Linked DNA regions of Homo sapiens: regions 1, 2, 3, 4, 5 and 6 are each reported to be linked to region 7. Evidence: microRNA targets listed by miRTarBase, many of them from high-throughput screens and not tested one by one. Region 7 holds a microRNA gene; each other region holds the end of a gene's coding sequence. Distances are from middle to middle.

Evidence for each region. The annotated mature microRNA hsa-miR-6884-5p reads AGAGGCUGAGAAGGUGAUGUUG and lies in region 7 at 2,301-2,322, shown strand. An mRNA with a match to its seed (bases 2 to 7 or 8) in the 3' UTR can be bound and repressed. Matches are read on the target gene's strand: a 7mer-m8 pairs with bases 2 to 8, a 7mer-A1 pairs with bases 2 to 7 and ends in A, and an 8mer does both.
Region 1: the mRNA of HOXB3 is a reported target of hsa-miR-6884-5p. Seed matches in the 3' UTR shown: 7mer-m8 at 1,720-1,726.
Region 2: miRTarBase lists MGAM as a target of hsa-miR-6884-5p. Seed matches in the 3' UTR shown: 8mer at 826-833.
Region 3: miRTarBase lists EVI5 as a target of hsa-miR-6884-5p. Seed matches in the 3' UTR shown: 7mer-m8 at 1,232-1,238, 7mer-m8 at 1,368-1,374 and 7mer-m8 at 2,681-2,687.
Region 4: miRTarBase lists RASSF9 as a target of hsa-miR-6884-5p. Seed matches in the 3' UTR shown: 7mer-A1 at 1,404-1,410 and 7mer-m8 at 3,725-3,731.
Region 5: the mRNA of DNAH9 is a reported target of hsa-miR-6884-5p. The part of its 3' UTR that is shown has no 7-base or 8-base seed match.
Region 6: miRTarBase lists ZNF101 as a target of hsa-miR-6884-5p. Seed matches in the 3' UTR shown: 7mer-m8 at 2,009-2,015 and 7mer-m8 at 2,442-2,448.

The regions. Positions count from the first base shown.
Region 1 is chr17:48,547,133-48,551,132 of GRCh38, reverse strand. HOXB3 (homeobox B3) reads left to right here. Exons shown (of 5, transcript NM_001384749.1): 5 at 1-2,263. The coding sequence ends at 799. HOXB-AS1 (HOXB cluster antisense RNA 1) reads right to left here. Exons shown (of 7, transcript NR_102279.1): 4 at 2,670-2,758; 5 at 1,187-1,244; 6 at 731-793; 7 at 1-109. Among named protein-coding and RNA genes, the nearest start is that of HOXB2, 4.0 kb to the right of the region's middle.
Region 2 is chr7:142,105,659-142,109,732 of GRCh38, forward strand. It overlaps MGAM (maltase-glucoamylase), which reads left to right. Exons shown (of 71, transcript NM_001365693.1): 71 at 156-1,089. The coding sequence ends at 233. Among named protein-coding and RNA genes, the nearest start is that of MGAM2, 4.0 kb to the right of the region's middle.
Region 3 is chr1:92,510,202-92,514,280 of GRCh38, reverse strand. It overlaps EVI5 (ecotropic viral integration site 5), which reads left to right. Exons shown (of 20, transcript NM_001350197.2): 20 at 311-4,079. The coding sequence ends at 625. Among named protein-coding and RNA genes, the nearest start is that of GFI1, 25 kb to the right of the region's middle.
Region 4 is chr12:85,801,373-85,805,440 of GRCh38, reverse strand. RASSF9 (Ras association domain family member 9) reads left to right here. Exons shown (of 2, transcript NM_005447.4): 2 at 1-4,068. The coding sequence ends at 739. Among named protein-coding and RNA genes, the nearest start is that of RASSF9, 33 kb to the left of the region's middle.
Region 5 is chr17:11,968,858-11,972,923 of GRCh38, reverse strand. DNAH9 (dynein axonemal heavy chain 9) reads right to left here. Exons shown (of 69, transcript NM_001372.4): 69 at 3,176-3,624. The coding sequence ends at 3,397. Among named protein-coding and RNA genes, the nearest start is that of ZNF18, 27 kb to the left of the region's middle.
Region 6 is chr19:19,680,031-19,684,109 of GRCh38, forward strand. ZNF101 (zinc finger protein 101) reads left to right here. Exons shown (of 4, transcript NM_033204.4): 4 at 1-3,476. The coding sequence ends at 270. Among named protein-coding and RNA genes, the nearest start is that of ZNF101, 13 kb to the left of the region's middle.
Region 7 is chr17:40,024,626-40,028,704 of GRCh38, reverse strand. MIR6884 (microRNA 6884) reads left to right here and starts at 2,296; the gene lies at 2,296-2,373. It overlaps MED24 (mediator complex subunit 24), which reads left to right. Exons shown (of 26, transcript NM_014815.4): 15 at 759-796; 16 at 1,240-1,322; 17 at 1,671-1,849; 18 at 1,959-2,058; 19 at 2,374-2,549. It overlaps SNORD124 (small nucleolar RNA, C/D box 124), which reads left to right and starts at 1,060; the gene lies at 1,060-1,163. RefSeq lists an enhancer at 1,148-2,058.

The DNA.
Region 1 (4,000 bases), 8.5 Mb from region 7:
TGGCAGCGGGGGCGGTGGCGGCGGCGGCGGGGGAGGGGACAAGAGCCCCCCGGGGTCGGCGGCGTCCAAGCGGGCGCGGACGGCGTACACGAGCGCGCAGCTGGTGGAGCTGGAGAAGGAGTTCCATTTTAACCGCTACCTGTGCCGGCCTCGCCGTGTAGAGATGGCCAACCTGCTGAACCTCAGCGAGCGGCAGATCAAGATCTGGTTCCAGAACCGGCGCATGAAGTACAAGAAGGACCAGAAGGCCAAGGGATTGGCCTCGTCGTCGGGGGGCCCATCTCCAGCCGGCAGCCCCCCGCAGCCCATGCAGTCCACGGCCGGCTTCATGAACGCCTTACACTCCATGACCCCCAGCTACGAGAGCCCGTCCCCACCCGCCTTCGGTAAAGCCCACCAGAATGCCTACGCGCTGCCCTCCAACTACCAGCCCCCTCTCAAAGGCTGCGGCGCCCCGCAGAAGTACCCTCCGACCCCGGCGCCCGAGTATGAGCCGCACGTCCTCCAAGCCAACGGGGGCGCCTACGGGACGCCCACCATGCAGGGCAGTCCGGTGTACGTGGGCGGGGGCGGCTACGCGGATCCGCTGCCGCCCCCTGCCGGCCCCTCCCTCTATGGCCTCAACCACCTTTCCCATCACCCTTCCGGGAACCTGGACTACAACGGGGCGCCCCCTATGGCGCCCAGCCAGCACCACGGACCCTGCGAACCCCACCCCACCTACACAGACCTCTCCTCTCACCACGCGCCTCCTCCTCAGGGTAGAATCCAAGAAGCGCCCAAATTAACACACCTGTGATGGGAAAGGGCGAACGAGGATTAGGGGATGGGGAGGAAGAGAGAGACTGTGGAGCTCTGGGGGGCAACCTGGAGGTCTGAAAAGAGGAGCCAGAGAAGGTGGTACCCAGGCTTCCTGGTCAGAACCGGCCTGGAGCTCCTTCCCTTCCCCCTGGCCTGAGAGGTTGCTTTTAAGTCTTCCACCCCTTGTTCCATCTGCCTGCCAACCCATCGGAAAGGAATCCACATCATATTGGAGATGACCCCATCAACCCCAGGGCTCCAGCACTACCAAGTTGGAATTCCACGCCCGGGAGTGGGGTAGAGGAAGACGAGACAGGACGAGGCAGAAAAGCACATTTTAAAAACCAGACAAGATGGCTAGGCCATCACCAACCAACGGACTTACCTTACATCTTTGTAGGTAATTCCCCCCAAATCTTGATTTTTTTTTTTCCTCAATTATCCTTTAAAAAATAAGAAAACACATTTCAAACCCAAAAGGCACAAAACACGTTCCCTTCCAACTTTCCCAAAACCTCAAATTTGTTCCCATTTGAGGTTTATTGAGGTACACTTCTAGCCCCCGGTTTTTCTGCTCTAGAACATTCATATCTATACATCCCACCCCCATCAATTACAGTTTTTAGAGGGCTCAGGGATGGTGAGAGATCCTGAAAGAGCTGCCTATATTATAAATTATATACATTTTTTTTTAAGGAAAAGTGTGGAGGCTAGGGCAGGCAGGTTGTTAGGACTGAAGGTTTGCCCATTCTGCTGCCTCCATCTCAGCTCCAGCTCCATCCCCCTCTCCACAGAAAGCAGTTGGTGACACGAGGTTCTATACTTTTCTTCTGTTGCTCTCTTGACTTAACGTGAAAACAGGGTATATTTGAACAAACTGTCCCAGGCAGGGGCTGGGCAGGGCCTGTGTGCCTTGCTCAGCCTCCTGACAGGACACTTTTGTTGCACTTAGAATTTACATTTTAATGGATGTAAAAACAACTGTGAGAGATGTCTGGGCCTGCAGAAGTCCAGCATTGCTCAAAAAAGCGTGTGTTCTAGTGAACATTTTCATATATATTTATTGGTTATAGCCTGTTAAAATATTTTCTTTTTTGTATTATTTATCCCCCTACATTATGTATTTATATGAGGGAAAAAAAGGAAAAAATTGTACTTTTTTAGTATTTACCTGTTACAAAGGACATTGTGTTTCCTGTCATGTAAAACCAGCTATTTTAGTTACTATTGTACTCTAGAAAAGAGCTGTAGATTTATGTTAAACTCGTACTTACGAACAATTGTAATTAGTTCTAAAAGGCATGAACTCAGCTCCTAATCGTCACTGTATAGTCCTGAATTTGTAGAACTAGAGTTAATTCCCTCTTGGAACTTTCTTTGTTCTTCAGTAGTTACTTTTTTCCTTACCTAAAAGGGTTGTCTGTCAAACAATTCTTGAATAAACTTTCTGTTATCAATTTTATCTTGTCCTGGTGGTCCAATTTAGATAGCAGAGCAAGGCTGCTGACTGCCAAATTTCCCCCAAGGGAAGAAGGACAAGGACAAGGACACTGAAGACCCTTCCCTGGCCTTTTTGTCCACTGCCCAGGTTCCTGTCTCCCCCTTGATATGTCTTAAGTTTAAATACCATTTTCTCACTCATAAGAGCCTGTAACATTTTGCCAACTTCTTCAGCTGTGGTTTAAGTAGCAAGTTGGGAGGTAACGGGGGACTCTTGGATGCTCTCTGTAGGTTTTTCTGTTTGGCCTGTATGCCTCTAGGTTTTTCATTCATTGACCTTTCGTCTGTTAGCTCCTTTGGCCACAGCGTCCATGCACCCCCCACCCCCCACCCCTTCCCACCACCACCAAGAAAATCTGGCCGATTACGGTTTCTTCCACGAAACCTAAACTTCACAATCCTCTTCCGGAGCCACAAAGAAGGTGTCACGTGACCCGAAGCCCAACCACCATTGGGTCTAAAATGAAAACAAAGAAAAATGATTAATCTAAAAAAAAAAAAAAAACAAAACTGAGGCCTAGACTTCTCAGGTCAAACTTTAAAACTAAGTAAAATTAAATCACTAAATAAAACTCGAGGCGGAGGGAGGGGAAGCACGTTCGATTTCCCCTGCCAGAGAAAGGGGAGAGGAGGGTGGGAGAAGCTGTTGGATCCAAGCGTAAATAAAACGGTCCCCAGGCTAATGTGCGGCTCTGTTTCCATCATCCTTGGGAAAACTTCATTTCTTAGTTGTGGTTCCATAAAAGTTTTATCACATTGGAGTGAAAATAGAGAAGGTCTGTCAAAGATGAAATGTCACCGCCGAGTCGCTGGAGCCGATAAGAGCGAGAAGACAGGGCGGCTGAAATATGGAGCTAATTCGTTGAAAGAGAAGCGATGGCTGCTTGCTGAAGAGCTGCATAATTCTAATTGTAAGCGATGTGCCCGCATTGCTTAATTAGGAGCATATATTTGGTGGTAGTGATGTTGGGGGAGTGAGAATCGTTCCAGGCCCTGCCTTAAAGAGAGGGCTGATTTTCATTTTTATGTTGCATCCTGGCAGTCCAAGGTTAGTAATTATAGTCTTTATGCAACAATAAATAACAATAAAAAAGCAACCTGAACTCTACGCCCTCCCCCTTCCCCACCACCAAGTAGGATTTTAACTGGACTCATCCAAGCAGCAAGCAATTTAGCATTGGGTCAGGCTATAATTTAAAGGCATAAGAGCGTGCAAAGTTTGATTGGGATCAAATAACGCTCAAGGGTTTTTCTTTCTTTCTCTTTCTCTCTTCTTCCTTGAATAACATTTTCTGAATGATATAACTAGATGAAGCACCATGTTTGGCTCTGGGGCTGGGTTGGGTTGTTATTTATCTAGCAGGAAAGAGGCCAAGAAAGAGAATTTAGCTTAAGTTTGAAAAACAGAGCTTTGGCTCGAAGCTGGAATTGCAAACAAGAAAAATAAGAACCAACTTGGCTTGGTGTTCCCTATCCTTCTCTTTGGAAGATTCCAGGCGCTCAGCTAAAGCAGCCAAAGACGTGGGTAAAATATCCGTGCTGTTAAATTCACAGCAGGACAGGGGGGCGGGGGAGGGATGTCTCTGAAAAGGAGGGTTCTCTGGGCCCCTTTTAACACCCAAGTTTTCCGCTGTTTGCTAATCTGGCCATAAAATCTGTCAGTGAGGGTTAGAGAGAGCTGTATTTCCTGCAGGGACAG
Region 2 (4,074 bases), not on the chromosome of region 7:
CTTCTCATCTGAAACTTTGAAGGCAGTCTTTTAACTAGACAATACAATGTAGAAGTATTAGGGGGTTATTTGGACTGGATACTTGCACCTGATTTATTTGCATGCAGGAAATTTCAACACCGGATGCCCAATTCTTTTCCTTTGGTTCCTAACAGGTATTAAGCATCGATGTGACTGACAGAAACATCAGCCTACATAATTTTACTTCATTGACGTGGATAAGCACTCTGTGAATTTTTACAGCAAGATTCTAACTAACTATGAATGACTTTGAAACTACTTATACTTCATACTCATAAAAATTATTGTGTGTTGCTAATTTGTTCATACCCACTATTGGTGAAATATTTCTGTTAATTTTGTTATATGTTTTTTGTGTGAACCCTAAAGGTTAAACCTTAGCCCTGTGGGATAGGCAGTTAGGGAGGTGTGGAAAATCTATGCATTACCTTAATGTCTCTGTGTGGTTAGTATGGTAGTGACTGTTCATCATATGACATTTACTGAAGATGAACTGGGTCCATGATGAAGTGTGTGTATGTCCACGTTTGTAATCATAGAATGGACCCCATTCTTTTGTTAAATACACAAGAGAAAGCTTTCTGTGACAGTTCCAGGTCTTGAAGCTAATCAGCATCTCAAGAAAGTATCCAGAAAGAACATCTGCTAGTTGGTTATAGGCGGTGGGAGGAATAATATACCTAATTGGTTATAGGTGGGGGGAGCATGATAAGCAAAGAAAAGGCAAACACAAGGAAAGATCAGATGAAACAGAAGATGATAGTAAAAGTGATCCTAAGTAAGAACATAATGTAAAATTGTCAGCAGCCTCATGGGGAGGAAAAAGGAAGAGTCAACTCACTTGAAGAAGAGGGTCTTGAGAAATCCTTAGCATAAAGGGCTACTGGTGAGATTGAGATCTGAGCAGGCAAAGCTCAAAAGAGAGTTTGGAGGTTAAAAATAATTTATTTTTGCAGTAGTGTGCTTTGAAATGTGTAAATCTTATTTCTAATGTATACAACCACATTTCACATAAAAATATGCAATTTATATGCCAGATAAAAATAAAACAAGTGAATTTGCAAGTGATTTTGAATTTTGTGCTATTTTGACCATGAGTAATCTCTGTTTGGGGTTAAGGTTCTTGTTTAGCAAACTCTTATGAATTTGTCTTTCTGGTTCTCTTCGGCATCACAGAACCTACAGCCAAATCCACCAATAGGATGATAACCTTTATAATTATCCTTTTTCTTACATCTCTGCAAGGAGTCTTTTATAAGATGTGGGTTTGTGGAAGGGTCTATTGATTACTATTTTAATCATCATAGCAGTTGCTATATTTAGGAAAATACCAACTCCAGTAAAAATAGGAGTTGCAACCTTCTTGCTTAAAATTCTATAGGGTTAAAATGTGAGATAAGGAAATTATATATTAATGTTCAACAGGAATATTAACTTTTGATGTTACCTGAAAATGAGTTGAAAATGAATGTGTGTGGAATGAATGAACCTACTTCTCTGTGTTTTCTTCTTTTCTTATAACCAGGAAGCCATTCATTCTCCCTGCACACTCATGTGTCAGCACCTGCATAAGGCTAGAGACAAACAATATTGTTAAATCATCTAATTATCACAATACGGGGCATTTGGATGAGGGCCTGAGCTAACTAGGAAACTGGTGAAATATGGAAAAGCAGCCATGGGAATCCTTTGATCAAAAAGGTGGGAAACTTGTCAGCTTTCCTCTAACAAACTCAGGAAGGCCACAAAGATGAAAACGTTATTTACTTGATATTTAAAAAATATTTAATGTTACCATCAAGGATATGTTGGTGGAATTTGGCTCTGGCTGCCACAGAATGCTTAAGGAGAGGCATTCTGACTATATAATTCTGATGGCTAAGGCCCTAGTGAGGCCAGTGGGGTTTTGGAGCACACGAAGTGTCAGGGACCCCACTGACAGCCTAGTGAAACCTACGGAATTCTTCCTCACAACATTGTTTTTAAATGCATCAAGCAAAATGCATGCTATTTCAAAGAAAACTTATCATATTACGATACACTTATCCAAATATTAAAGATGATATAGTAACCCATGAGATGTGTTTTTTTCATTATCAAATTAAATGAAAAGATCCAACAGTGGAAGTAACAATGCTATAATTTCAATGTAATGATCAACATCAACAATATTTTGAGATATCCACTACAATTTCATAATGTAATATGGAAAGATCTGTGATTGCATTATTGACAAACTCATGTGCTATGAAAACTACTGTGTTTTGTTGTCTACATTCATAACCTAACAAAATGCTAAATTTCAGCCAGAAATGTGTGAAAAAGAGATTATCTGTTGGAACCAATATGGCTTACCGGAGTTAACGCAGAAAGAGCTTGCTGACGTCACAGCCTGAATTTCCACCACAGGTTCTTACTAACTCCCTCCCAAATTTGCACATGAGACCCATGATGAGGCATGAAGAGATAACTGTGCATGCCTGAGGACTTTCTAGATTTCCTCTTTCTTTTACCAATCACCTGCTAATCCCAGAATCCACCCCCTAAGTCTTTTCTGATAAAAATACTTCCTTAAAGCCAGCACAGGAAGACAGGTTTGAGCTGGACTCCTGTGTCCTGTGAGTCGACTTTGCAATAAAAGCTTTTCTTCGAAACCCTTTATCAGAGTATTGGCTTCTAGCGCATCGAAGAGTGAGCCCTTTCGCTCAATAATACCCCCAGAGGTTGTTCCTCAGATCACAGTCTGAGAACCACCTCTCATGGAACCATATCCATTTGTGGCCATCCCAGAGCAGCCCCTACAACATGGACCTATGCTTACAACTCCTGGCCAGCTATTCAGGAAGAGGCTGGGGGCCTTCCTTTTCCACATATGCTCTGTTTTTTAGATCACATAATTTTGCTTTCTTCATAGGTGTGCCAAAATAAAAAAAAAAACACTCTCAAACTCTTTCACTTAAATAGGAAGACATCTATTCCTTTCTTATTAATGTTATAACATTAAATGTCATATATACCTGCAAAGATAAGGTTATGTTGGCCGTGGCAGATGTCTTCAAGATCTCATCAATATTTCTTTGTTCTTGTCATAGCGGCAGAGTCACTGAGAGTTTTGCATCTGGCCTTGGAGAAAGGTGTTCTGGAAGTTAAGGGTGACTCATATTACTAGTTTCTGATCTGATGATTCCAACCAGCAGCTTGCTGTGACAACTGTTTGAGTTCCGCCAATAGCTAACTTTGCCGTGCCTTGTTACCGATAGACAACTGGAAGATGTCGGGTCACGTGCCTGTCTCTACCCTTCAAAGTGGCTCTGTTATTTTCTCATTGGTCAACACCAGTATGGTGATTCAATATCTTCCAGTTACTAGTTAGCAAGAATGGAAGGTGAAGGTAGCTATTTTCTGCACTTTAGGAAACAGGTTATAGATTAGCTGGGCCTGTTGGTTACCACTATTAACATAAATGAAGTCACAAATGTGCATGGCATGTGGGGAGTTAAAGGTAAAATATCACACAAAAAATAGATCTTATGTAACAATAAAATCTCCCTTCTTGACCTTTTGCCAGGATGTCTTCCCAATTTGAAATGAGATCTTGGTACATTTCCCCTCTAACAAAGGCCACCTTGTACTGGGGCAAATGAAAAGCTGAATATGTCATTCCAGCAGTTCATAAATGCAGAAACCGAGTCTCTCTTTCTCTCTCTCTCTCTCTGTCCCTCCCTCTCTCTCTCTCACTTTCTCTCTCTCTCTCCGTGTGTGTGTGTATGTGTGCTTTTCCACATACTGAGCATTTGAAGCAAACACAAAAGATTCACTACTGTGAACACTGTTATTTACAGTTCTTAGGTGCCACCAAAAGAGCTCTCTGTACCCTCATATATTACTGGCAGGAATGGGGGTGTAAAATGGTGCTGCCACATTAGAAAGCAGTTTTGCAGTTCTTCAAAAAGTTAAAGACTTGTCACATGACCCATGATTCCACTCCTAGGTATATTCCAGGCAGAATTTTAAAACGTGTCAGCTCATAGCAGCATCGTTCATAACAGGCAA
Region 3 (4,079 bases), not on the chromosome of region 7:
TCAGGAGGCTGAGGTGGGAGAATCGCTTAAGCCTGGGAGGCGGAGGTTGCAGTGAGCCGAGATCGCACCACTGCACTCCAGCCTGGGTGACAAAGTGAGACTGAGACCTGTCTCAAAAAAAATAAAATAAAAATAATTATGAGCCCATTATATATAACACATAGAAGGCACTCAAAAATTAGTAACTATGATTATACCTGTAAATAGAAAAATAATAAGGCATCTTCTTCCTTAAACATGGAATGTTTGCTTTTTGGCGTGTGTGTGTTTCCCCCATTTGACTGTATTAACTTGGATTTTGTTTTAACAGCTCAGGTGCCTAAAAGGCCAGAGGGGCTTCTCAGGCCAACCTCCTTTTGATGGAATCCACATTGTCAACCATTTAATAGGAGATGATGAATCATTCCATTCCTCCGATGAAGATTTTATAGATAATTCCTTACAGGAAACTGGTGTTGGTTTTCCTTTGCACGGAAAATCTGGTTCGATGTCTTTGGACCCCGCAGTGGCAGATGGTAGTGAGAGCGAAACAGAAGACAGTGTGCTGGAGACCAGAGAGAGCAACCAAGTGGTTCAAAAGGAGCGGCCCCCGAGAAGAAGAGAGTCGTATTCAACCACTGTCTGACCATCACTGTGACCTAGACTATGGATTTATTTAAGGGATCAGTTATCATATGATTAGGGCTTTTTGGAAATAATTTGTTTCATATGTACATATATATATATATATATATATATATATATATATATATATATATATATATATATATTTTACAGTCTTATCTGCCTTTTTATCTTTGCCAAATCTTTACCACTGATTTACCATTGCCATAAAGTAGACTGGTATATGGTTAATGTGTAAAACAAGGTTCTAACAGTATTACTGAATATTAATGTTTCTTGTTTAGAAAATGCAACTATATCTATATGTGGGAACCATTCTGAAGTTCAAAACTATGGAAAATTGAATTTTCTTCAGACAAAACTGCTCTTGTGCAATATTTTATGCTCAGTGAGCAAATTGTGTATTTATGTTTATCAATTTGTTCTCAAGGTGGCTGTCTACAGACATTTGACCAAGACATACATCTGATTTACCTTGTGTTTTTTTTTTTATTGTTGTTTTTTTTTTTAAGACAGAGATTCAGTCTGTCACCCAGGCTGGAGTGCTGTGGTGTGATCTTAGCTCACTGCAACCTCCGCCTCCCAGGTTCAAGCAATTTTCCTGCCTCAGCCTCCCGAGTACCTGGGACTATATGTGCGCACCACCACGCCTGGCTAATTTTTTGTATTTTTAGTAGAGATGGGGTTTCACCATGTTGGCTGGGCTGGTCTCGAACTCCTAACCTCAAGTGATCCACCCGCCTCAGCCTCCCAAAGTGCTGGGATTACAGGTGTGAGCCACTGCACCCAGCCTACCTTGTCTGTTTGTGTCTGGGAGGTTTTTTTTTTCTATTTTTATTTTTTCATGAAAATTATTGGTGGGCCACTGAAAGTCCCCACACACAAAGCCTTTATTCTATATAATTTTATAAACACAAATTCATGATTATCTGTTTTGAGAGTTTTAAGTTTTGTTTTAATGTTTAACTTTTATGTGCATATGATGCTTCCATGTGTTGGTTACTAGAGTAGTAGGTTAACTACAGACATACTGTTTTGTTTGTACATATTTATAAATCTGTACCACCTAACATTGAACATCATTTTATATGAAGAACATACATGTTGCAAAATGACTGCTTTCAGCATCTAACAGGACTTCTGTAAATAATAGGTTAAAAGTTAAAAATAAAACACTAATGTTTTAAGAGCTTTAGTATTTTGCTTAGCATTCAATACTAGCAGATTCATAACTGATGCCTGTTCAAAAACACTGTTGGTGGAATCTTTTATTTCATGTGTATGTAACTACTAAATTTTTCATGACTGAAGAGGTTATAGCACATATTAGTTAGTGCTAATATTCTACTGAATATAATTTAAGCAATGGGCTAAGGTCCAAGAAACATAGCAATTATATCTACAAATAATCTATTAACATGATCTTCAGAATCTCTAGTTTTTGTTCTATAGATAAAGCCATAAGAATCCTTTCCTACCAGTTTTTCCTATATCATTTAGATATTATTTCCTAGAAAACAGGATGCCTGTCACTGATAAGTTAGAGAAAACACCCAAATTATACTTGCACTATGGAAAGACGACATGAATATGTTGACTGGGTACTTTCTACTCTCATTTTTGTTAGCCTATGAAAAAAAAAACATTTTGTTAACCTATGGAAAAAGCCTTGGAAGAGAAAAGTAGAATTCAGTATGTATGGAGGCACAGTTTTGCACAGTATGTTGCATGCGGCAAAAAAAAAAATATGAAATAGAGTAGAAGAGATAAAAGTAGTTTTCTGTCAAAAACTAGGAGTTAAGCCTTCAGGTACGTTGTGGACTAGGCTTTCCAGCAAGGTTTTTGTAGCTATTTGCTTGCCTGAGAAATGAAATTGAAAACATACCCCTGCGTGTCTGTCCTTAACACCAGGCTAAATTCTGGTGGTTAAATAACTTATCTGTGGTTACAAGCTAGTAAGTAGCAGAGCCAAGATTTTTTTTAATATAGAGACAGGTGTCTCACTGTGTTGTCCAGGCTGGTCTTGAACTCCTGGCCTCAAGTGGTCCTCCTGCCTCAGCCTCCCAAAGTGTGGGGATTACAGGTGCGAGCTACTGCTCCCAGCAAGAGCCAAGATTTTAACCTAGATCTCCCTAACACCAAAGCTTTTGAAAGGGTTCAGCTGAAGAATTTCTCAATTCTCTGTTTTGTTTTGTTTTTATTTTTGTTTTTTGAGATGAAGTCTCACTGCACTCAGGCTGGAGTGCAGTGGTACGATCTTGGCTCACTGCAACCTCCACCTCCCGGGTTCAAGCGATTCTCCTGCCTCAGCTCCCAAGTAGCTGGGACTACAGGTGCACGCCACCACAACTGGCTAATTTTTGTATTTTTAGTAGAGATGGGGTTTCGCTATGTTGGCCAGGCTGATCTCAAACTTCTGACCTCAGGTGATCCACCCACTTTGACCTCCCAAAGTGCTGGGATTACTAGACGTAAGCCACCACACCTGGCAATTCCCTGCTTTTTTGACAACATAATTTAAATGAATTTGATTTAAATGTTTCCTGAATATATATACAGATAGATAGATGAGTATCAACACTTACAAGCTCTACACAGTCTGTGAGTGTAGATACTACTTACTCGTAGGATTGTCTTGTGCTTTGGGGATTTTTGTTCGGAGTTCTATACTATCAGCCCAGAAAGCTATCAATGTCCAAGTGAAGTGAGATGATGCATGGCCACATTATTGCTTTGACCCTCACATCAAGAAATCTGAATGATCTGGACCAGGGGTCAGCAAAGTGCAGCCTACAAGCTATTGCAGTCAGCTGCCAGTTTTTACTTTTTTAAATAGTTGGGAAAAAAATTCCAAAGACTGATATTTTGTGTCACATGAAAATTATATGAAATTCAAATTGCAGTGTCCATAAGTAAAGTTTTATTGGGGCACACCCATGCTCACCCTTTTAAATATTGTGTATGGCCGCTTTGTGCTACAGTAGCAGAGTTGAGTCATTGCAAGGGAGACCATATGGCCCAGGTAGCCTAAAATATTTATCTGATCCTTTACAGAAAAAGTTTGCTAACCCTTGATAACAGATACTCTAAAATGCAGGTTTTTCTTCTTCAATTTAGCTCAGTGGTAGGTCAAATTGTTTGCTTTTGCTATTAAGCTTATGATTTGGAAACGTAAAATTTCATGGTGGATATTATAATCAGAACTATTCAAAAGGGAAAACATGCCAGCCATTTTATATGATGAAGTCTCTTATTCCATAGAAAACTGTAGAAAGATATCTGTATCTTTGGAGAAGGAGAAAGAAAGGAAAGAACTCCAGAATCCCATCACTGTTCTTTAAAGCATGCATCACAGACCTTTAAGAGTATGCTTTATTGAGTAAAGGTTATAGTTTGACTTTAAGATAAGAAATTTTCTAGAATCATGTTTGAATTCTAAACGTTGATATTCTTAA
Region 4 (4,068 bases), not on the chromosome of region 7:
CATTTCCCAGGACCATACTATTCATCAGCAAGTCAAGAGAATGAAAGAGCTGGATCTGGAAATTGAAAAGTGTGAAGCTAAGTTCCATCTTGATCGAGTAGAAAATGATGGAGAAAACTATGTTCAGGATGCATATTTAATGCCCAGTTTCAGTGAAGTTGAGCAAAATCTAGACTTGCAGTATGAGGAAAACCAGACTCTGGAGGACCTGAGCGAAAGTGATGGAATTGAACAGCTGGAAGAACGACTGAAATATTACCGAATACTCATTGATAAGCTCTCTGCTGAAATAGAAAAAGAGGTAAAAAGTGTTTGCATTGATATAAATGAAGATGCGGAAGGGGAAGCTGCAAGTGAACTGGAAAGCTCTAATTTAGAGAGTGTTAAGTGTGATTTGGAGAAAAGCATGAAAGCTGGTTTGAAAATTCACTCTCATTTGAGTGGCATCCAGAAAGAGATTAAATACAGTGACTCATTGCTTCAGATGAAAGCAAAAGAATATGAACTCCTGGCCAAGGAATTCAATTCACTTCACATTAGCAACAAAGATGGGTGCCAGTTAAAGGAAAACAGAGCGAAGGAATCTGAGGTTCCCAGTAGCAATGGGGAGATTCCTCCCTTTACTCAAAGAGTATTTAGCAATTACACAAATGACACAGACTCGGACACTGGTATCAGTTCTAACCACAGTCAGGACTCCGAAACAACAGTAGGAGATGTGGTGCTGTTGTCAACATAGTTCCAATGGCTCCTTTCTGACCTGCTTTCATGTTTTAATGTTTGTTTAATTTAATAGGAAACCTCATTTTAAATATAACACTCAAAAAAATGTAAATCATATTGTAGTATTCAATAGTTAATAAAAACTCGAGAAATGTGTTGTTTCTGATGTGAAATTTCCAAAGGAACTTTAATTATTGCAAGTTCAAGCAATGAACTATTTATCACGAATGCAGCACAAATAGCTTGTCGTTGTAGAACACAGAAATAATTTGATGGGAATCATATGATAATCTTCCTTAGCGTCTGTGGAAAACGATTTACATAAACTTTAAAAGCAATCCTCAATATTAGACAGTCCAAATATTCAAACATGAAGAAGTAGAATTAAAATGTGCTGTAATATATATTTTTCCAACACTGTATAATTGGAATTTTTAAATCTGTAAAGTATATGGGAGCTACTGTGTTGTAACTGCATTAATTCAAAGTTTGGTTCTTTTAATTGATCCTTGATAATACAACGTATCATGTATATCACTTCCTGAACCCTTCTACCTGTTGAGGCCTATGAAACAGGCTGCTGTTGGGACATGTATAAATACTGGCAGGGAATCAGACACGTATAGGGTACAGATGAGGCAGGGCCAAGTGCTGCATACAAACAGCAATTTTTATAAAGAAGCCTCAATTTATTAAGAGCTATGTGTGGATGTTTGCTATCTGGCAATTCAGATCTCCTGACCAAACCCATGTTCATTCACTGAGTGAGGTATAGTGTGGGTTACAGAGAAAATCAGTCATAGTGTTATTTGTTTATGTCCTATCTACAAAAGTTGCAATGATGGAATTTGGAACCCTTCTGTGGATAAAATAGAATCTGCTATAATTATTAGCATTTTGTCTCTGAACCTACAGAGAGGAGACCACATGGACAAAAGACTTATTCTGCTATGCTATAACTCAGATTGTCTTATTTCTTCATCTAAAGTGCTTAAAAGAGACTTAGTTCCTAAAAAAGTACCAGCAAAATCCCCAACACACTAGTAAGAATTCAAGAAATTGAAGGGATTATTTAGGTCTTATCTTGACTGACAATCATTATTATGGCCTACTATGCTTGTGTTTTAATTAGAAATGTGCTTTCTTCTCTCTCCCTTCTTTGCTTACTTTCTTCTTATTTGCCTTCCTGTCTGCCTTACTTCCTCTCTTTTCCTGCCTTCATCTCTCCTTCTCCCGTCTTCTTTTTTTCCTTTGCTTCCTTCCTGCCAATGAACACATGATGCAATCATAATGAAATAATTATTTTTTATTGTACTGTTAACTGAGTACTGCTGCAGTTTATTTTTATTTAGCTGATATCTTTCCTGTGTGTCACTGCACATGTAAGTAGAAATATTATTTTACTTAGTTTTAATATGTGGACATTGGTTAAGGGTCCCAATCCTTCTCATTTCTTCTCTTTTATTCTTTTGCATACTTTTAGTGCAGGTTTTAACTCAGTTTTCTTATTGTTTTACTTTCAAAATTTGAAAAGTATTTAATTTTTTAAAGCAACTTTATTGTTAACTCATTTAAAAAAATATATTGCTCCTTAAATCTTCTTAACATATTTGTTCCTGCCTTCTCCTGTCTTTTAACTCATCTTTGGGAAGACATTTAGAATTTTCTGATTGTTTCAGTTTCGTGAGCATTTATACTATCATTTCTTGTACCAAAATAGATATTTTCAGGTCTTATTTCAAGTTGGCTGGTAAGAAAAATAGAAATTTCCATTCTATGGAAAAATACAGTGATAAAGAGTAATAATTCTGGCATCGGTTACATTTTTTTAAAAAAGATAAAATTGAATAGTCATCTGTGAAAGGAAAGTTCACCTGACTAAGAGTCCATAAAATTATTCAACAATATAAGCCACTGACATATTCATTGTTCACTAATGGGGATCAAATTCAGAAGATCATCGTAAATGATAAACCCATTGTATCATTTTCCTACAGTGGAAGTCATCTCTTTGAATTATTCTTATCTTTAGTGAGAAAATACTGAAAGAACATGCTTATCTATTTGACTAATTATCTGAATTCAAGAGGTTCTGATAAGAAGTAGGCCTGGAGAGATAATTTCATCTTAGAAACTTTGAATTAACTTCTGCTTTTATACAGTTAAGCACAGTAATGCATTTAAGGCTCAATTCTTCTACATTTTACAGTAAATAATGTTTGTAAGTCTCAGAAAGCAGTACCATTGCTTTTTAAATTCATTTCAGAATTTCCATTTGCTCATTAGTTATACAAATGTATTTGTGCGTTTGATCACTACAATCATTAAGTTTTAATCCTTCATCAGCTACCATGGTGAACCTCTTAATTTACAGTTACATGTTAATATATTAACACAAATAGAAGTACTGAAATACAATGCCCTCATGTCTGGATACTGAACTATTTGTTATTAAATTAAGTGAGAATTGGAATTATAAGTATAGAACTTGATAGAAAGTGTAATGTTATTATCTATAGAAATGTTAAAGTATAAATTCTTGAGTAATCTGACAGGTTAACTATGAAATTGCTATATGCAGCTAGAAGAAACAAACCAAAGCTGACTATTCTTAATTTCTGTAACAGGACCTAGATTCATCCTTGGTCATCCTTCCACTTGGAATTCTCCTTTTTATCCTTCTGCAATGCTCTGAAATCTTACCCTTTCCACAGTCTTTTTAATGTGCTAGCTCTTCTATGATATACGTTTGTTCCATTCAATTAGTTGGAATCTCATCTCTGAACCCAGAAATATTTTAGAGGTACTTCTCATAAGAAGCATTTTTATTCTGGCTTACGCTATATATATTTATGCACTTACCTAATTCCCCTCCTTCAATGAATTCTATTTTTTTTTTCCTTGAGACGGAGTCTCACTCTGTCGCCCAGGCTGGAGTGCAGTGGCGCGATCTTGGCTCACTGCAAGCTCCGCCTCCCGGCTTCACGCCATTTTCCTGCCTCAGCCTCCTGAGTAGCTGGGACTACAGGCGCCCGCCACCACGCCAGGCTAATTTTTTTGTATTTTTTTAGTAGAGACGGGGTTTCACCGTGTTAGCCAGGATGGTCTCGATGTCCTGACCTTGTGATCCACCCGTCTTGGCCTCCCAAAGTGCTGGGATTACAGGCGTGAGCCACCGTGCCCGACCAATGAATTCTTATTAAATTACTTTATCATCTGTCTTGTTAGCCTTACTCTTTCCTATTAACTTCTTTGCCCCCTGCTCCCTTTTTGAATTGAGTGGCTAAATTTTAGAGGTTTGTAGCTTTTGTGTGTGTGTGTGTGTGTTTTATAGATGGTAAATGA
Region 5 (4,066 bases), 28 Mb from region 7:
GGGTGTGGAAATAAGGGATTGGGGCGCAGAGATAAGGGATTGGGGCGCAGAGACAAGAGGTTGGGGCGTGGAAATAAGGGACTGGGGCGCAGAGATAAGAGGTTGGGGTGTGGAAATAAGGGATTGGGGGGTTCTTGCCCCCTAGGAAAGCGGGACTTGCCGCTAAGGGTGAAGGAGAAGGGGTTGAGGGGTACTTGCCCCTGCCCCAGAAAAGCAGAGAAGGGGTAGAGACAAGAGAAGGGGTTGGGGTACTTGACCCTTCCCCAGAAAAGCGGGACTTGCCACTAAGGGTGAAGGACCAAGGCAGGCGTCCCTGTGTGGTCTGACACCCTTGAAATGTGAGTGTATAATCAGAGAGGTGTCCCTGCAATGATTAAACACCAAGGGAAGGCTGCCTTCCCAGTCCGTGACCGGCGCCGGAGTTTTGGGTCCACGGATAAAACGTGTCTCCTTTGTCTCTACCAGAAAATGAAAGGAATTGAAATTAAGAGAAGGGAGAGATTGAAGTGTGGCGCCAAGATTGAAAGGAGAAAGAGGTTGAGGGATAGTGAGGGAGGTTGGAGAAGAGAGTAAAAAGAGGCCACTTACCGGATTTGAGATTGGTGAGATGTTTCTTGGGCTGATCAGTCTGAGGACCTGAGGTCGTAGGTGGATCTTTCTCATGGAGCAAAGAGCAGGAGGACGGAGGATTGATCTCCCAAGGGAGGTCCCCCGATCCGAGTCACGGCACCAAATTTCATGTGCGTCCGTGTGAAGAGACCACCAAACAGGCTTTGTGTGAGCAACATGGTTGTTTATTTCACCTGGGTGCAGGTGGGCTGAGTCCGAAAAGAGAGTCAGCAAAGGGAGATAGGGGTGGGGCCGTTTTATAGGATTTGGGAAGGTAATGGAAAATTACAGTCAAAGGGGGTTGTTCTCTGGTGGGCAGGGGCGGGGGTCACAAGGTGCTCAGTGGGGGAGCTTCTGAGCCAGGAGAAGGAAATTCCCAGGGTTAATCATTCAGTTAAGTTGGGGCAGGAACAAATCACAATGGTGGAATGTCATCAGTTAAGGCGGGGCAGGGCCTTTTCACTTCTTTTGTGATTCTTCAGTTACTTCAGGCCATCTGGGCGTATAGGTGCAAGTCACAGGAGATGCGATGGCTTGGCTTGGGCTCAGAGGCCTGACAGTGAGACTTCCCCCTCCCACCATCTTCCACCTCCCACCATCTTCCACCTCCTTCTTTAGGCCTGATTTTTTTTTTTTTTTTTTTTTTTTGGTGAGACAGAGTCTTGCTTTGTCGCCAGGCTGGAATGCAGTGGTGCAGTGGCGTGATTTCGGCTCACTGCAACCTCCGACTCCCTGGTTCAAGCAATTCTCCTGCCTCAGCCTCCCGAGTAGCTGGGATTACAGGCACGCACCACCAAACTCAGCTAATTTTTGTATTAGTAGAGACGGGGTTTCACCATGTTGGCCAGGATGGTCTTGATCTCCTGACCTTGTCATCCGCCTGCCTCAGCCTCCCAAATTGCTGGGATTACAGGCATGAGCCGCTGTGCCCGGCCTGCCTGATGTTATTATACTACTATGGGTGAGGCTCAGGAAGGATGATGCTAATGTGGACAGAGTTATCTCCCTGAAAACAGATTAACCTATAGTCAGGAAACTGCAAGTGCATTACTAGTTGATGGGAGAGGAGGGACAACACCCAAGCTGGAGGTCCTGGCTTCCAGCAGTAAAATTTATTAACTCCCTTGTATCATGAAGATGAGAAGGCCCCACTTAGGGGGTGCAGGAACTGCAAGGAAGAAAGCAGGAAAATCATAGAGGAATTAGCATCAGATTCCATATTCTATATAGCAGAGATTTATAGGATGATGGGATTTGAGGTTTTAAATCACGAGTTCTCAAACTGGCCTCCAGACCAGCAGCATTGGCAATTTGTTTAAACTTACTGAATCAGAAATATTGAAGGGCGGGTCCCAGTAATCTTTGTTTTAACAAGCCCTCCAGGGGATTCTGATGCCTGTTCAAGTTTAAGAACCACTGTTCAAAACAGTAATCACAAAATTAAGTTTCTGCAAGGTTAGGAGGGAATAATCACAGAAGGAATACTGGGTCCTCCCATACTTTTCTTACCAAACAAGCTGCCTCATAGAGCTTTTTAAAACTCATCAAAACTGTTAAACCCATTGGACTTCCAGTGAAAATTTGTTCCACGGAGGTAAATCTAGAAAACTTTTAGATTAAAAAGCTTTAGAATGGCCAGGCGCGGTGGCTCACGCCTGTAATCCCAGCACTTTGGGAGGCTGAGGCAGGCACATCACCTGAGGTCAGGAGTTCAAGATCAGCCTGACCAACATGGTGGAACCCTGTCTCTACCAAAAATATAAAAATTAGCCAGGCATGTTGGCAGGCGCCTGTAATCCCAGCTAGTTGGGAGGCTGAGGCAGGAGAATCGCTTGAACCCAGGAGGTAGAGGTTGCAGTGAGCAGAGATTGCCCCAGTGCACTCCACCCTGGGTGACAGAGCGAGACTCCATCTCAAAAAAAAAAAAAAGGCTTTACAGTAAAGATTTCTTCTTGGCTTCCTCTTAAATGATCGAAAGGATGATGGAGATACTTCCTGTTTGCTTGTTCACATTGTATCCACAACAAATAGTAGGTGTCAGATTAAAATGTATTGAGTGGATGCATGAATTAATGAAGGATAAATATCAGTATACACATCCCTTATCCTCTACAGCAGGGATCAGCAAAATATGGCCCATTGCTTGTTTTTGTAAATAAAATTTGTTAGAATGCAATCACACCCCTTCATTTACTCATCATTTATGGTTACTGTTGGTCTACCACGGCAAAGTTGCAAAGTTCAAACAGAGGCATTGTGGCCTGTAAATCACTAAAAGTATTCACTAACTGGCTCTTTATGGAAAAATGTTGGTGACCCCTGCTCCAGGATAGTGTTTCTCAAACTATAATGTGCATACAGATTTTCCAGAGAGATTGTTAAAATGGAGATTCTGGTTCATGGGTGATGCCAATACCACTGGTCCAAGGACTGCGTGGGGTAGCCTGGAAGAAGAGCACCTAGGATAGTGTTGTGTAACAAGGTCAGGGCCCTTGTGGTTTGTTTCTCTTGGTCTCTACATGATCATTTATGATTCAGCAGCTCTCAAATCCTGGGCCAGACACAGTTGAAGAGTAAATCATTTTATTAAGAAACCTGGGCCCACATTCCTTCAGCTCAGCCTCACCTTAGGCACACCTCTCCAAGTTCCCTAGAGGAATTCTACAGAATTGTGAGTGCTCATGGTTTCTTACCGTTCTAAGTGTCTGTGGTGACCCTTCACCCACCTGTCCCTCTAGGCAGCCTCCAAGCCCAGCTTTTTTATTTTCTCGGTGGCTCTGCAGGATGCTAAATCTGGAGAAGCAAGGCTACTCCAGCCAGAACCCACTTGGATGGGTTTTCCTTAGTCTTCAGGTTGAAAGTCCACACGTAGGTGGGTCCCCGCTGACTAGTCTTGTACACAGGACAGGAATAGACACTGCGGCAGTCCTGCTTATCTGCAGGAATGGCCTTGATGAACATCACAGGCATAGGGGGTGTCAGATCCTTCAGCTTTGCCTCTGTAATGATCCCAGCCTGAGGATAAAACATGAGAAGAGGCACCTTAGATCAGACCCAGAGCCCAGCCAACCAGCCTTGCTCTTGTCAGCAGATCCAAGGGAGGAAAGACTGGACTGACATGGCTGCCTTTATGCCTGCCCCCTTCCAGGTTTTCTCAGCAGCCTTTGATGGAATGCATCTGATATGTAGAAACACGTTTCTATTTTTCTCTGCCTAAATCAGGTGAAGCAGAGTTCCAAAAGCTATTATCATATACAAATGAATCCCTTTGGAGCTTGATTCTCTCCTAGTTTGTTTTTTCATTAATTCATTTCATGAGCATATCGAATGTGTATATTTGCCAGATGTCGGGCTAGGTGCTGGGGATTTAAAAATGACTAAGACACAGTTTCTGCCAGTAAATGCTTTAGCTTTTAAAGCTTTTGTTATGTCCTGTTTCTGTTTCTTTTCTATTTCA
Region 6 (4,079 bases), not on the chromosome of region 7:
AATTATCCCAGTTGTTTTCGAAGACATAAAAAAACTCATAGTGGAGAAAAGCCATATGAATGTACAAGGTGTGGTAAAGCCTTTGGGTGGTGCAGTTCCCTCCGAAGACATGAAATGACTCACACTGGAGAAAAACCCTTTGATTGTAAACAGTGTGGTAAAGTCTTTACTTTTTCAAATTACCTTAGACTTCATGAAAGAACTCATTTGGCCGGGCGTAGCCAGTGCTTTGGCAGGAGGCAGGGGGATCACCTGAGCCCAGGAGTTTGAGACCAGCCTGGGCAACATAAGAAGGCCCCATATCGGCTGGGTACGGTGGCTCACGCTTGTAATCCCAGCACTTTGGGAGGCTGAGGCGGGTGGATCACCTGAGGTCAGGAGTTCAAGACTAGCCTGGCCAACATGGTGAAACCCCGTCTCTACTAAAAATACAAAAAAATTAACTGGGCATGGTGGTGGGCACCTGTAATCTCAGCTACTCGGGAGGCCGAGGCAGGAGAATCGCTTGAACCTGGGAGGTGGAGGTTGCAGTGAGCCGAGATCACGCCATTGCACTCCAGCCTGGGCGACAAAAGTGAGACTCCATCACACACACACACAAAAAAGCCCCATATCACGTGGTGGCTCATGCCTGTAAAACCAGCACTTTGGGAAGCCGAGGTGGGTGGATCACGAGGTCCAGAGATGGAGACTATCTTGGCCAACATGGTGAAACCCCGTCTCTACTAAAAATACAAAAATTAGCCAGGCGTGGTGGTGTGTGCCTGTAGTCCCAGCTACTCGGGAGGCTGAGGCAGGAGAATTGCTTGAACCAGGGACTTGGAGGTTGCAGTGAGCCGAGATCGCGCCGCTGCACTCCAGCCTGGTGACAGAGCGAGACTTCGTCTCAAAACAAACAAAAAAAAGAAGGCCCCATATCTCCAAAGAAAAAAAAAATTAACTGGGTGAGGTGGTGCATCCCTGTAGTTCTAGCTGCTCAGAAAGCTGAGGTGGGAGGAACCCTTGAGCCTGGGAGGTTGAGGCTGCAGTGAGCTGAGATCGTGCCACTACACTCCAGCCTGGATGACGGTGACACTCTGTCTCAGAAAAAAAGGGAAAGAAATAATTCTCATTTATACAGGAGAGAAATCCTATGAATGTAAGGAATATGGGAATACATTCAGTTTCCAAAGATATGAAAAGACTAACTGGAAAAAAATCCAAAGACCTCAGATATTCCAGTTCTATTCAGAGCCATAAAAGGACTCATACTGGAGAAAAATTGTAGAAATGTACAGAATATGGGGAAACTCTCATTGCTCTCATCTCCATTCAAAGACACGTGTCAGTGCACACTGGAGATGGATGGTATGAATCGAAGAATACACACTGGATGGAAACGTTAGTAGTTTGGAAAATACAGGAAACTTCCATTTTAACAATAATTAAAATTCACATGGGCTGTGCACAGTGGCTCTCCCCTGTAATCCCAGCATTTTGGGAGGCTGGGGTGGGTAGATTGCTTGAGGCCAGGTATTCAAGACCAGCCTGGCAACCTGGAGAAATCCCATGTATACAAAAAATAGAAAAGTTAGCCAGGGATGATGGTGTTCGCCTGTAGTCCCAGCTACTCAGGAAGCTGAGGTGGGAGGATTGCTTGAGTTTGGGAGGTCGAGGTTGCAGTGAGTGGAGATTGCGCCACTGGACTCCAGCCTGGGCAACAGTGAGACCCTGTCTAAAAAAATTAATCATGTGAGAACATCCACTCGAAAGAAATCCTATAAACGTAAGTAATTTTGAAAGCCTGATGCAAATTAATTATTATATAATGCTCAAAAACTTAATCATGAATGAGTTATTACACAAAGTTATAAATATATAGCATTTATCAGTGGCTCATTCTTTTTTCTTTCTTTTTTTTTTTTTTTTTTGAGATGGAGTTTTGCCCTGTCGCCCAGGCTGGAGTGCAGTGGCACAATCTCGGCTCACTGCAACCTCCGCCTCCTGGGTGTGAGCAATTTTCCTGCCTCAGCCTCCTGAGTAACTGGGATTATAAGCACATGCCACCACGCCTGGCTAATTTTTTTGTATTTTTAGTAGAGACGGGGCTTCACCATGTGGTTCAGGCTGGTCTCAGACTCCTGACCTTGTGATCCGCCCTCCTTGGCCTCCCAAAGTGCTGAGATTACAGGTGTGAGCCACCGCGCCTGGCCTTTTTTTTTTTTCCCGAGACACAGTCTCACTCTGTTGCCCAGGCTAGAGTGCAGTGGCGCGATCTTGACTCACTGTAACCTCTGACTTCTGGGTTCAAGCAATTCTCCTGCTTCAGTCTCCGAAGCATCTGGGATTACAGGCGCACGCCACCATGCCCAGCTAAATTTTTGGTATTTTTGTAGAAACAGGGTTTTTCCACATTGGCCAGGCTGGTCTTGAACTCCTGACCTCAAGGAATCCATCCTCTTCAGCCTCGCAAAGTGCTGAGATTATAGGCATGAGACACCTTGCCCGGCCCCTGTGACTCATTCTTAAAAAGGATCTTTGGATTATGGGTTTCCACTTTTGCAAGGAAATGTGAGAATGATACTCTTTAAGCAGTGGTACCTGAGGTTTAATAGGAAGTGTTTTTATCCTAAGTTAGTTAATAAAATTTTTTTCTATCCATTTTGGTTTTCATTTTTTTCTATCCATTTTAAAGTGTTGGATCTGTGGGTGAAGTGAAATTTATTTCTAATATGTAAGCAGGTTTAATTTTTATGTAGTGTTTAATTGTTCTGTGATGAATGGGCCATTACAAAATGAGTCTATTTTTGTTTGTTTTCTTTTGTTTTTGAGACTGAGTCTTGCTCTGTCGCCAGGCTGAAGTGTAGTGGCGCGATCTTGGCTCACTGCAACCTCCACCTCCCGGGTTCAAGTAATCCCCCTGCCTTAGCCTCCTACAGGCGCGTGCCGACATGCCTGGCTAATTTTTTGTATTTTAGTAGAGACGGGGTTTCATTGTACTGGCCAGGATGGTCTTGATTTCCTGACCTTGTGATCCACCCCACCTTGGCCTCCCAAAGTGCTGAGATTACAGGAGTGAGCCACTGCGACCGGCCCATGAGTCTTTATTAATAGAGATTTCTTACTGGTGTTATGTGGCAGATTCTGCATATTCCTCACCCATCATATGTATTCCACTTTCCTTTATTATGGGGAAAACTACTCTTTTTGGCATGATACAATGTTGACTCCATTTTCTTTGCTAATAAGGACTTGGTATCAATTTATCAGTATGTAAAGTTTACCATAGAGTATTGTCTCATGTGAATCATTCCCATTTTTTGCTCTTTACTCTTTGTCGTTATTTCTGAGTATTATTTGGATGGTTCATTTTGACTTAAGGATAGCCCTGTGATATGACAATATTTTTATCTAATCTGATGGAGAAAGCATTTAGTCTCCTGATCAAGTATGATGTTAGCTGCAGGTTTTTAATAAATGCCTTAATTCAGTTTGAAGAAGTTCCCTTCTGTTCATTATTTATTGAGTGTTTCATCAAGTTGTATTGAACTTTTTTGCATCTATTGGGATGATCCCCTTTTTTTTTTTTTGGAAACAAAGTTTCACACTTCTTGCCCAGGCTGGAGTGCAGTGGCACAATCTTGGCTCACTGCAACCTCCGCCTCCCAGGTTCAAGTGATTCTCCTGCCTCAGCCTCCCAAGTAGCTGGGATTACAGGTGCCCTCCACCACGACTGGCTAATTTTTTGTATTTTTAGTACAGGTCAGGTTTCACCATGTTGGCCAGGCTGGTCTCGAACTCCTGACCTCAGGTGATCTGCCCGCCTCAGCCTCCCAAAGATCCTGTGGTGTTTAGTCAGTTTTGCATTGCTGTAAAGCAATGCCTGACACTGGGTAATTTGTAAAGTAGAGATTTCATTGGCTCACGATTCTGCAGGTTATAGAGGAAGCATGGTATCACATCTGCTGGGTTTCTGGTGAGGCCTCAGAGCTCTTACTCTTGGCAGAAGGTGAAGTGGGAGTAGGTATGTCACAAGGCAAGAGTAGGAGCAAGGGAGAGAGAGGGGGAGGTCTCAGACTCTCTTGAGTGAGCATTCACTC
Region 7 (4,079 bases):
AGAGCATCCTGGCTGGAGATCTTGGAGGAAGGGCCTGTTCTCACGACCTAAGTGTTCCTTTCTCTTCAGCTGAGGATGGAGTGGACATGTTTGGTAAAGAGATGAGGGTAAGGGTTGAGGTGTTGAACATTGGGCATGGAGGAATTCCAAGTATGCCCAGTTATTAATAAGGGGCTCTCAAATTCTGTTGCCTTTTTTGATTGCCCTGGAATTTGACATATATAGAACATGGTTCCATTCAGTGAGCCATTCTCTAGGCCTTGGAAATCTTCTAACAATAAAAATCCTTCTGGCCGGGTGCGGTGGCTCACGCCTGTAATCCTAGCACTTAGGGAGGCCAAGGTGGGCGGATCACCTGAGGTCAGGAGTTCAAGACCGGCCTGGCCAACTTGGTGAAACCCTGTCTCTACTAAAAATACAAAAAATTAGCCGGGTGTGGTGGCGGGCACCTGTAATCCCAGCTACTTGGGAGACTGAGGCAGAAGAATTGCTTGAACAGAGGCGGAGGTTGCAGTGAGCTGAGATTGTGCCACTGCACTCCAGCCTGGGTGACAGAGCGAGACTCTTTCTCAAAAAAAACAAAAAAAAAACAAAAAACAAAAACCACAAAAACCTTTTTTCTATAGCAATGTGTCTCATTTTAAGTTTAACCAGTAACTCAGACTCTAGCTATCGCTCTCTGAACATGTGTAGCCCCAGCGCCCAGCTACTGCTCAGCTCATGCCCTGGTCAATGCAGCCTGTCTCCATTCCTTTCAGTTTGAATGAATTCACAACCTATGGCAGCGAAGAAAGCAGTAAGTCAGCCCTGTGCATCCGCAGGCCCAGTGGGCCCTGAGGAGGGGTGTGGCGGGAGAGTGTGGGAGGGAGGAGGGCTCCCCAGCTCAACAGGGGGAGGCTGTGCTCCCTCCTCAGAGCCATGACCAATGGAAGCTTCCACAGAGCTTGAAAGTGGATAATGCTGGAAAAGGATTCTTCCCAGACCATCCCTGTGTCTCCTTCCCCCCCTCATCCCTTTACGACTTGGTTAGGTATGCCAGGAGAGGGTGCTGGGGGTCTTTGGTCTCAAGGAAGGGATGATGTTCCAGTTGAGACTCAAGAAAAGGATTCTGAGCCTCAGAGCTTTGAAGGAGCCACTTGGTCCCTGACCTTCCTAGAGGCAAATCCCGATCCCTGTCAACCCAGACACGGGCTCCCCCCTGCCCTCGTCTGGGAGCTCAGCCTTCCCGTCCTTCCACAGCCAAACCGGCCTCCGTCCGGGCCCTGCTGTTTGACATCTCCTTCCTCATGCTGTGCCATGTGGCCCAGACCTATGGTTCAGAGGTGAGAGAGGGGAGCGACCGGGACGGGGGCTCAAGGGAAGGAGGTAACCCGGAACTCTCCCCACCTCACTGCCTGCGCCCCCGCAGCCTCTCAGCCAGTTAGTTCTGTGGGCCTCAGAAACCAGGTGCCCACCCGGGCTGGAGTCCGTAGAGGCACCTTCAGCCCTATGTTCACATTGACCACTAGGTGGCAGCATTGCCCCCGTCTGGCTCCCTTAGACCAGTTCGTCCCCAGTCTTTGGGCTGGGCTGGAGCAGCAGCCTGGCGGGAAACAGTGCAGCCCCAGGTCCAGCGCTGGCAGGCGCCGCGCCCTCCCCACTCGGCTGGTGCCCCCCTTCCCCTTTCCCAGGTGATTCTGTCCGAGTCGCGCACAGGAGCTGAGGTGCCCTTCTTCGAGACCTGGATGCAGACCTGCATGCCTGAGGAGGGCAAGATCCTGAACCCTGACCACCCCTGCTTCCGCCCCGACTCCACCAAAGTGGAGTCCCTGGTGGCCCTGCTCAACAACTCCTCGGAGATGAAGCTAGTGTCAGTGGCCCGGGCGCCCACTCCAAGGGTGGCGGTGGGGGCAGGGTCAAGACCCGCTCCCTGAGCCCGTTCCTTGCTCCCCTGTGCTGACTTCTCTGCACACCCGCAGGCAGATGAAGTGGCATGAGGCCTGTCTCAGCATCTCAGCCGCCATCTTGGAAATCCTCAATGCCTGGGAGAATGGGGTCCTGGCCTTCGAGTCCATCCAGGTAGCCCCGCCTTCCCAGCAGCGTTTGCTCCCCTGAGACACAGAGCCAGCCAGTGATGACTTGTTATATTTCGTAAGGGCAAGAAGACCTTTAATCCAGGAGCTCATGTTTTGATATTGATATTTTGTGTAATCGTTGTCTTAGCTACTCCCTCTGGCCCAGGTAGCTCTGGGAAGATCAAACTTGTGGAGAGAGGTGTGGAATGTGGCCCGGGACTCCACCCGCTGCACTTAGCTGCCCGCAGAGGCTGAGAAGGTGATGTTGGCTCAAGAAAGGGAGATAGATGGTAGCCCATCACCTTTCCGTCTCCCCTAGAAAATCACTGATAACATCAAAGGGAAGGTATGCAGTCTGGCGGTGTGTGCTGTGGCTTGGCTTGTGGCCCACGTCCGGATGCTGGGGCTGGATGAGCGTGAGAAGTCGCTGCAGATGATCCGCCAGCTGGCAGGGCCACTGTTTAGTGAGAACACCCTGCAGTTCTACAATGAGAGGTCGGTAACCTGCCTTCCCTTCTCAGACCCTTCAAGTGTGTTGTGAGAAGTCAGCACATCCAATAACAAGCACCCCTCTCTTTTCTGACCTTCGCAAACACGCTACTTGATCACTCACTCACTTTCCTATTCATGCATTCACTCATCTGACTCAGCAAACATGTACTGTGTCTCTGTGGCAGAAGCGTTTATATGCCAGCACCTGCTGTGTTGTCAGAAATGCAGACCCTAAACAGGGTCTGCCCGCAGAGACTCAAGTTCTAGACAACTAGCTCCCAAAAGAACAAAGCTGTGTGACTGTCTAGGAGCTAGGAACCTGTCTGTAGATTTTACAGGCCATGCCCCACCCTCAGTTACCTCTTAGGACAGTTTCCTGCCCTGGCTCTTCAGGGGCTTGGAGGACTTCCCTGGTGACCAGTTACGTTGAGTTCATTCACCCAACCAATAAGTTGTTTGCTTTTTTTAATTGTAAAAAACACATAAGATTTGCCATCTTAGCCATGTTTAAGTGTACTGTTCAGTAGTGTTAAGTATATTCACACTGTTGTGTAACAGGTCTCCAGAACTTTCTTGCATCTCTGAAACTCCATACCCACTGAACAACAGCTTCCTATTTTCCCCTCCCTCCAGCTCCTGGTAACTACCATTTTACTTTGTGTGTCTAGGAATTTGACTACTTTATACTTTTTGTTGTTGTTGTTGTTGAGACAAGGTCTTACCCTTGCCCAGATCAGAGTGAGTCTCACTGCAACCTCAAATTCCTGGGCTCAAGTGATCCTCTCGCCTCAGCCTCCCGAGTAGCTGGGACTGCAGGCCCACAGCCGGCTAATTTTTCTAGTCTTTGTAGAGACAGGGTCTCACTATATTGCCAGGTCTTGAACTCCTGGCCTTGAGTGATCCTCTCACCGTGGTCTCCCAAAGTGCTGGGATTACAGGCGTGACCCACCGTGCCCTGCTGAATTTGACTACTTTTTAGATGCCTCATTTAACTGGAATCATACAGTCCTTGCCTTTTCGTGACTCACTGACTTCACTCAGCATGGTGTCCTCAAAGCTCATCCATGTAGTAGCACGTGACAGGAATTCCTTCCTTTTTAAGGCTGAATAATACTCTGTTGTGGGCCGGGCGTGGTGGCTCACGCCTGCAATCCTAGCACTTTGGGAGGCTGAGGTGAGTGGCTCACTTGAGGTCAGGAGTTTAAGGCCAGCCTGACCAACATGGTGAAACCTTGGCCTTACTAAAAATATAAAAATGAGCAGGGAGTGGTGGCAGGCGCCTGCAATCCCAGCTACTTGGGAGGCTGAGACAGGAGAATTGCTTGAACCCAGGAAGCGGAGGTTGCAGTGAGCCGAGATCACGCCACTGCACTCCAGCCTGGGTGAAAGAGTGAGACTCTGTCTCAAAAAACAAAACAAAAACAAAAGAAACCTCTATTGTGTGGCTATACCACATCTTGATCCCTCCTCTGTCAGTGGACACTTCAGTTGCTTCCACCTTTGGGCTATAGTGAATAGTGCTGCTGTGAACAT